2 linked regions of the Homo sapiens genome follow. The protein of the gene in region 1 purifies or fractionates together with the protein of each later gene. This does not show direct contact. Each region holds a gene or a part of one and is shown in the gene's direction. Other genes may lie near its edges.

Evidence for each region. The genes of interacting proteins can lie anywhere in the genome.
Region 2: the proteins of MAGEA4 (region 1) and DCAF6 purify together in Homo sapiens (affinity purification with mass spectrometry; 4 studies listed by BioGRID and IntAct, with this or other methods). This does not show direct contact.

The regions. Positions count from the first base shown.
Region 1 is NC_000023.11:151,919,389-151,922,888, forward strand, and holds part of MAGEA4 (melanoma-associated antigen 4), read left to right. Parts: intron 1-204; exon of another isoform or gene 205-334; intron 335-3,137; exon of another isoform or gene 3,138-3,243; intron 3,244-3,500. UniProt on the Homo sapiens protein: Regulates cell proliferation through the inhibition of cell cycle arrest at the G1 phase. Also negatively regulates p53-mediated apoptosis.
Region 2 is NC_000001.11:167,939,683-167,943,182, forward strand, and holds part of DCAF6 (DDB1- and CUL4-associated factor 6), read left to right. Parts: intron 1-3,500. UniProt on the Homo sapiens protein: Ligand-dependent coactivator of nuclear receptors. Enhance transcriptional activity of the nuclear receptors NR3C1 and AR. May function as a substrate receptor for CUL4-DDB1 E3 ubiquitin-protein ligase complex.

The DNA.
Region 1 (3,500 bases):
CAACCCCGCACCTCTCTCACACCACCATCTCCCACCCCAAAACCCGGGCCCCTCCACCAACCTCACCTCTCCCACCCCCATCCACACTGAATCAGGTTCTGCTTCCGCTTTCAACCCACCCCCAAAACGCGCCCCCTCCACCGACCTCACTCCTCCCACCCCCATCCACGCTGAATCGGGTTCTGCTTCCGCTTTCAACCCAAGAAAGCCGCAGGTGCCGGAATGTGATGCCACTGACTTGCGCATTGGGGGTTAGAGAAAAGCGAGCTGCTCTGTCTGACCAGCAGCTTGGGACTGGTGGAGGGAAGCGGGCCAGGCCCTGTGAGGAGTCAAGGTGAGACGCTGAGGGAGGACTCAGGAGGCCCCCACCGCAGATAGACAATCCCAAATAATCCCGAACCACTCATGCTCCCAGCCCTGGGCCACTCGTGGGGGGACTTCTGAGTCTGGGGCGCCCACCACCCCACTGCCTCTGAAGTCGCACGGGACTCTGCAGTCAGAGCTTGGGGTGATCAGTGCAAGACTGGTGAGGGCAGGCTCTGCCAGGCATCAACCTCAGGACTGTAAGAGAGGGCCGAGGGTCCCCCACCCCCATTCCCATCCCCCTTCCCATTCCCATCCACACTCCCAACCCCATCTACACCCTATCCCCCACCAGCACCCCTATCCTCCCCAAACCCCCACTACCCTTATGTCCTCATCCCCCACCCCAACACCACTATCCCCATCCAGGTTGAATCGCATTCCGTTTCTGCTTTCAACCCAGGGAAGCTCCAGGTTCCTGGATGTGATGCCAGTGACTTGTGCATTGGGGGTTAGAGAGACGCTAGCTTCTCAGTCTGACAGGCAGCTTGGGATTGGCAGAGGGAAGCCGGTCCAGGCTCTGTGAGGTGGCATAGTGAGAAGCTGAGGGAGAAGTCGGGAGGCCCTCTCCACCCCAGATAGACGACCCCAAATAATCCGGCACCCCTCCTGCTTCCAGTCCTGGGCCACCCGTGGGCGGACTTCTGAGTCTGGGACGCCCACCACCCCACTGCCGCTGAAGCCGCAGGGGACTATGGAGTCAGAGCTTGGTGTGATCAGTGCAGGACTGGTGGGGGTAGGCTCTGCCAGGCATCAACGTCAGGACCCTAGGAGAGGGCTGAGTGTCCCCCACCCCCATTCCTATCCCCTACCCCTTTCCCATCTGCACTCCCTACCCCATCTGTACCCCCATTCCCCACCTGTGCCCCTATCCTCCCCAACCCCCCAACCAGCCTCATACCCCCCTCCCCCACCCCTACCTTCATCCCCATCAGCGCAGCATCCGGTTCCACCCCTGCTTTCAATCCAGGCAAGCCCTGGGTGGCCGGATGTGATGCCACTGACTTGTGAATTGAGGGTTAGAGAGAAGTGAGTTTCTGGGTCTGAAGGGTGGCTTGAGATCGGCAGAGGGAAGGTGGCCCAGGCTTTGTGAAGAGGCAAAGTGAGACTCTGAGGGAGGATTCAGGAAACCCCTATCCCTGATAGAGGGTCCCAGCCCTGGACTACCCCGCGGAGGCTGACTTCTCAGACTGGGCTGCTCCCCACCTCCGCCCCCTTCGCAACGCGTTTGTTTAAGCCACAGGGGACTCTGGAGTCAGAGGTTGGTGTGATCAGGGAAGGGCTGGTTAGGAGAGGGCATGGCCCAGGCCCTGCCAGGAATCAAAGTCAGAAACCTGAGAGGGAACTGAGGTCCCCCAAGATCCTAGTCTAACCCCCACTCCCACAAATCCGCTGCCATTTCGCTGCTCCATTTCCCATTCCTTGCCCTCCACCCTCACCAGGCAGAATCCAGTTCCCCTTCTGCTATCAATCCAGGGAAACCCCAGGCTTGGTGCTGGGATGTTTTTTGGGGGTCAGAGAATCAAGGGCATAGTCCTGAGGGGCCAGTTGAGATCGGCTGAGGGGAGCGGGCCCAAGCTCTGTGGCGAGGCAAGGTGAGACTCTGAGGAAGGACTGAGGAGGCCCCCACCCAAGATAGAGGAACCCAAATAATCCAGCGCAGCTCCTGCTGCCAGTCCTGGACCACCCGGGGGAAGACTTCTCAGGCTAGGCCATCCCAGCTCCCACTGCCACTAAAGCTACAGGGGACTCTAGAGTCAAGAGCTTGGTGTGCCCAAGGCAGGGCCCAGGCTCTGCCTGGCATCGGGGTCAGGACCTTGAGAGGGAACTGAGGGCGCTACACCCCCACCCCATCCGCATTCCAACATGCCCAGCCCCATCCCCAACTCCGTTTTGCAGAATCCATTTTTTCCCCTGCAGTCAACCCCGGGAAGACCTGGGAATGGTCAGGCACTCGGATCTTGACATCCACATCGAGGGCTGAAGGAGGGAGAGGGTTTGGTATCATGAGCAGAGCCTCAGGGTAGCAGAGGGAGGACCCTGGCCCTCCTGGGAGATGAGGAAGGCCTCAGGAGACCCAGCACCCCAAGGCAGGGAGCCCACCCCACCCCGTCTGAGAATGAGGTGCCTCCTCTTTTAGCCTCAGGAATCCAAGGGATGGCAACTCAGGTCAGCAGAGGGGTGGGTTCCAAGCCCTTCCAGGATCAAGGAAAGGAAGACGAGGGAGGATTCAGGGGGCCTTGCATTCCAGATCAGTGGAGACCTGGGCCCTGGGAGGTCCTGGGCAAGGTAGCCACCTGTAGCTCATACTTCCTGCATCTTCGAGGTCACAGAGAGGAGAGGGCTATGGTCTGAGGGGTGGTACTTCAGGTCCGCAGAGGGAGGAGTCCCAGGATCTACAGGACCCAAGGTGTGCCACACTTCACGAGGAATGGGGATACCTGTGGCTCAGAAAGACGGGACCCCACAGAGTCTGGCTGTCCCCTGTTCTTAGCTCAGGGGGGACCAGAGGAGGGATGGCCCTATGTGCCAATTTCACTTGTTCCACAGGCAGGAAGTTGGGGAACCTTCAGGGAGATGAGGTTTTGGAGTAAAGGGGCAATGTTTGCTCATCTCAGGGGGTTGGGGGTTGAGGAAGGGCAGGCCCTGTCAGGAGCAAACATGAGTACCCCACAGGAGGCCATCAGAACCCTCACCCCAGAACCAAAGGGGTCAGCCCTGGGCACCCCACACAGGGGTGACAGGATGTGGCTCCTTCTCATTTCTGATTCCAGATCTCAGTGAGGTGAGGACCTTGTTCTCAGAGGGTGACTCAGGTCACCACAGGGACCCCCATCTGGTCTACAGACACAGTGGTCCCAGGATCTGCCAAGAGTCCTGGTGAGGAATGTGAGGGAGGATTGAGGGTACCACAGGGCCAGAACGCAGATGATGACCCCACAGAAATCAGCCCTGCTCCTGTTGTCACCCCAGAGAGCATGGGCTTGGCTTTCTGCTGAGGTCCCTCTCTTATCCTGGGATCACTGGTGTCACGGAGTGGGAGGCCTTGGTCTGAGGGGGCTGCACCCAGGTCAGTAGAGGGAGGGTCCCAGGCTCTGCCAGGAGTTGAGGTGAGGACCAAGCAGGCTCCGCATCCA
Region 2 (3,500 bases), on another chromosome or scaffold:
AACTTGGGAAGTGGAGGTTGCAGTGAGCCAAGATTGTGCCACTGCACTCCAGCCTGGGCGACAGAGGGAAACTCTGCGTCATAAATAAATAAATAAATAAATAAAGTATGGTACACTTATAAAGCCTTCCTTTTAAAAGTCAAATTCCAAGTTAGGATTTTCCTAAGGAAATAGATTCCTTTTTTAAAAGACTTCAATATTTAAACATTACGATTGTCTATCTACAGGGTTGTAGATTTAAGTATTTTTCTGATACATTTTCATTATTTGTATTTCTACAGATTTTTTAGCAGTGAATTACTGCTAAATAGTAAAATTGGGATAGAACAAATAGATAAATTTTTCTTGTAGCCTTTACATTTCCAGTTATTTCACCATAGCATGTGCCCTTTCAATGTTAATATTCAAGCTTTGTAATTGATTTTACTTAAACTGATTAATTATCTCCTTTCTTCCCATCAAAGAAAATTATACTTCAGAAAACTTCCTATTATGTTGTGGGAATGAAGATGAATAATTTCCCAGATGTTATTTATGATTAAAAGATATGTTTACTTAGAGCTCCCAAATCCACAAGATTCACCTGGGCCAACAGAGTGTTGTTTTAGACTAGCATGGATTTAGAGGATAGGCCAGGGATTTTAATCTTTGTGAGCCCTATCTAAATTTCAATGTAGGATTCTTTTTTTTGGTGGGAGGCGGGGGGCAGGGTGAGGCAGGGTTTTGCTCTGTCTCCCAGGCTGGTGTGCAGTGGCACCCTCATGGCTCACTGCAGCCTCCACGTCCTGGGCTCAAGGCCATCCTCCCACCTCAGCCTCCTGGAATTTTTTTTTTTTTTAAAGAATAATTATCAAAGTCAGAGATACCTGTAGGTTTAAATGTTTAAATGTAATAGTTTCTCAAATTACTGTATACTAGGTGTAGAGTAGTGCTTTTGGAAATCAGTGATTTATTAGCCACACAGATTTTATTATCCCATATATATACGGTTTTGTAAAGATAAACATTGTTAATAAAATAAACTTATTTCAATACATTGCTTGTTTCTACTCATATTTCTTTCCTTTTGGACAGACACTCCTACAACTTTCTAACCCTTCTAAATTAAAAGATAGTAATTGATAAAAAAGTAATTTTAAGGTACTTCTCAAGGGAGTTATTTATTATAATGTATAAAATGTGTAAATTATGATTAGGCAGCCAGTGACAATTTTTTAGTGGAGATTGAATCTCATCTTTTTGTAAGGAGTTTATGAAGTCAGTGTCCTTTGAATATCATTAGAGTCAGTATGTACTGAAATGGATAATTTTGCGTGTCGATTACTCTTTAGTGCATCTTGAATACATCTGCATTCTAGATTACCAGGTTCTTCATAATATGTTGCCAAGTTACAGTGTATTTATTATATGAAGATTAGTAACTTCTGACTTTTGCCTCTTTTTTTAGCCATTGGGGAAAAGTTAGTGAAATATTTGTATTTTGTTTCTTTAGTCTTGAAATTTCAGTGAAAGCTGAAAAATGTATGATTTTAGTATTGAAAAATGACGGTCAATTGTGACAAACGTAAGATATACTGATAATTCCTTAAGGCAGGACACCAAAGGCATATAAGTAATCATAACAACCATAGACACTATGATAGCTCTACTGTGGGTTTCATTGCTTCCTAAAATAGGATGAATCAAGTTATAAGTGCTTAGAAGGTTTAGAAGCTTCTGGTAGCATGGAGCTTATGTTACAAGTATGCTTTAGGTCAGTGTTTTTAAAATGTTTTAAAAATGATCCATGATAAAAGTACATTTATGTGGCAACCTGTGATATACACAACGAAAATAAAGGATTCTCTAGGTGTATATATAAACCTTACTAGATGGGATGCATTCTGTTTTTTTTCATATTGTTACAACTGTTGGTGTTGAACTGGTAGAGTACGCACTAATGAGTCTCAGCTTGAGGTTTGGAAAATTGTTCTAGATGGTGTGTAGTTCTTGTAATTTAATGTTGCTTCAGGTTTAAGGTGGGCAGGCTTCCCCAAGTACTTGAAGGAGATTAAAAAAATTTTTTTTTAAACACTGCTGATGGCTCCACAGGGAAAATGTAAATAGTGAAACTTCATGTACATCTTGGACAAAATAACTAGGGTCGAACACTTTTAAATAGATATCTATTGTGGGATTGCTGACTTGTATGGTAAGTATGTTTAACTTTATAAAAAACTTCCAGACTGTCTTCCAAAGTAATTCTACCATACTGCATTCCCACCAGCAGTATATGAGAGTTCCAATTGCTCCACATTCTCATCAGCATTTGGTGTAGTGAGTCTTCCTAATTGTAGCCTTCATGGTAGGCGTGTAGAAATATATCATTGTTTTAATTTGCATTTCTCTTTTTTTGTTTTTGAGACGGAGTTTCGCTCTTGTCGCCCAGGCTGGAGTGCAATGGCATGATCTTGGCTTACCGCAACCTCTGCCTGCTGGGTTCAAGAGATTCTCCTGCCTCAGCCTGCCAAGTAGCTGGGATATGGGCATGCGCCACCATGCCCAGCTAATGTTGTATTTTTAGTAGACATGGGGTTTTGCCATGTTGGTCAGGCTGGTCTCGAACTCCTGACCTCAGGTGATTGACCTGCTTCGGCCTCCCAAAGTGCTGGGATTACAAGCATGAGCCGCTGCGCCTGGCCTTTAATTTGCATTTCTCTAGTGGTTAATGATGTTGAGTATCTTTTGTGGCTTTTGTTTTTGTCATCCATATAGTCTGGTTAAATGTTCAGGTTTACCTTTTTAATATTGTAAGAATTCTATAATTCTTTATATAACAGTCCTTAATCAGATATGTACTTTACAAATATTTTCTGTCAGTTTATGTCTTTTTCTTAACAGGTTCTTTTATAGTTCATACTTTTTATGTCCTATCTAAGAATCTTTACCTAATCCAAGGTAACAAAGATTTTTACTTTTTTTTTCCTGGAGATTTTATCTTTTTACCTCTTACATTTAGGTCTGTGAACAATTTCGAGTTAAGTTTTACATATGTTGTAAGAGTCAAGTTTCATTTCTTTGCATATTAATGTGCAATTGATCTAACAGTGTGTGGAAAGACTACTTTTTTCCCTTTGTTGAAAATCAATTGACCATAAATGTTTAAGTCAATTTCCTAGCCACATTCCATTGATCTAGCTTCATGTCTTTATACCGAGGATTGAAATCAGCTAGTGTGATACTTTAAACTTGGTCTTTTTTTTGAGACAGAGTCTTGCTCTGTCACCCAGGCTGGAGTGCAGTGGCTCGATCTTGGCTCACTACAAGCTCCGCCTCCTGGGTTCACACCATTCTCCTGCCTCAGCCTCCCGAGTAGCTGGGACTACAGGCACCCGCCACCACGCCCGGCTAATTTTTTTGTATTTTTTTAGTAGAGATGGGGTTTCACCGCGTTAGCCAGGATGGTCTCGATCTCCTGACCTTGTGATCTGCCCGCCTTGGCCTACCAAAGTGCTGGGATT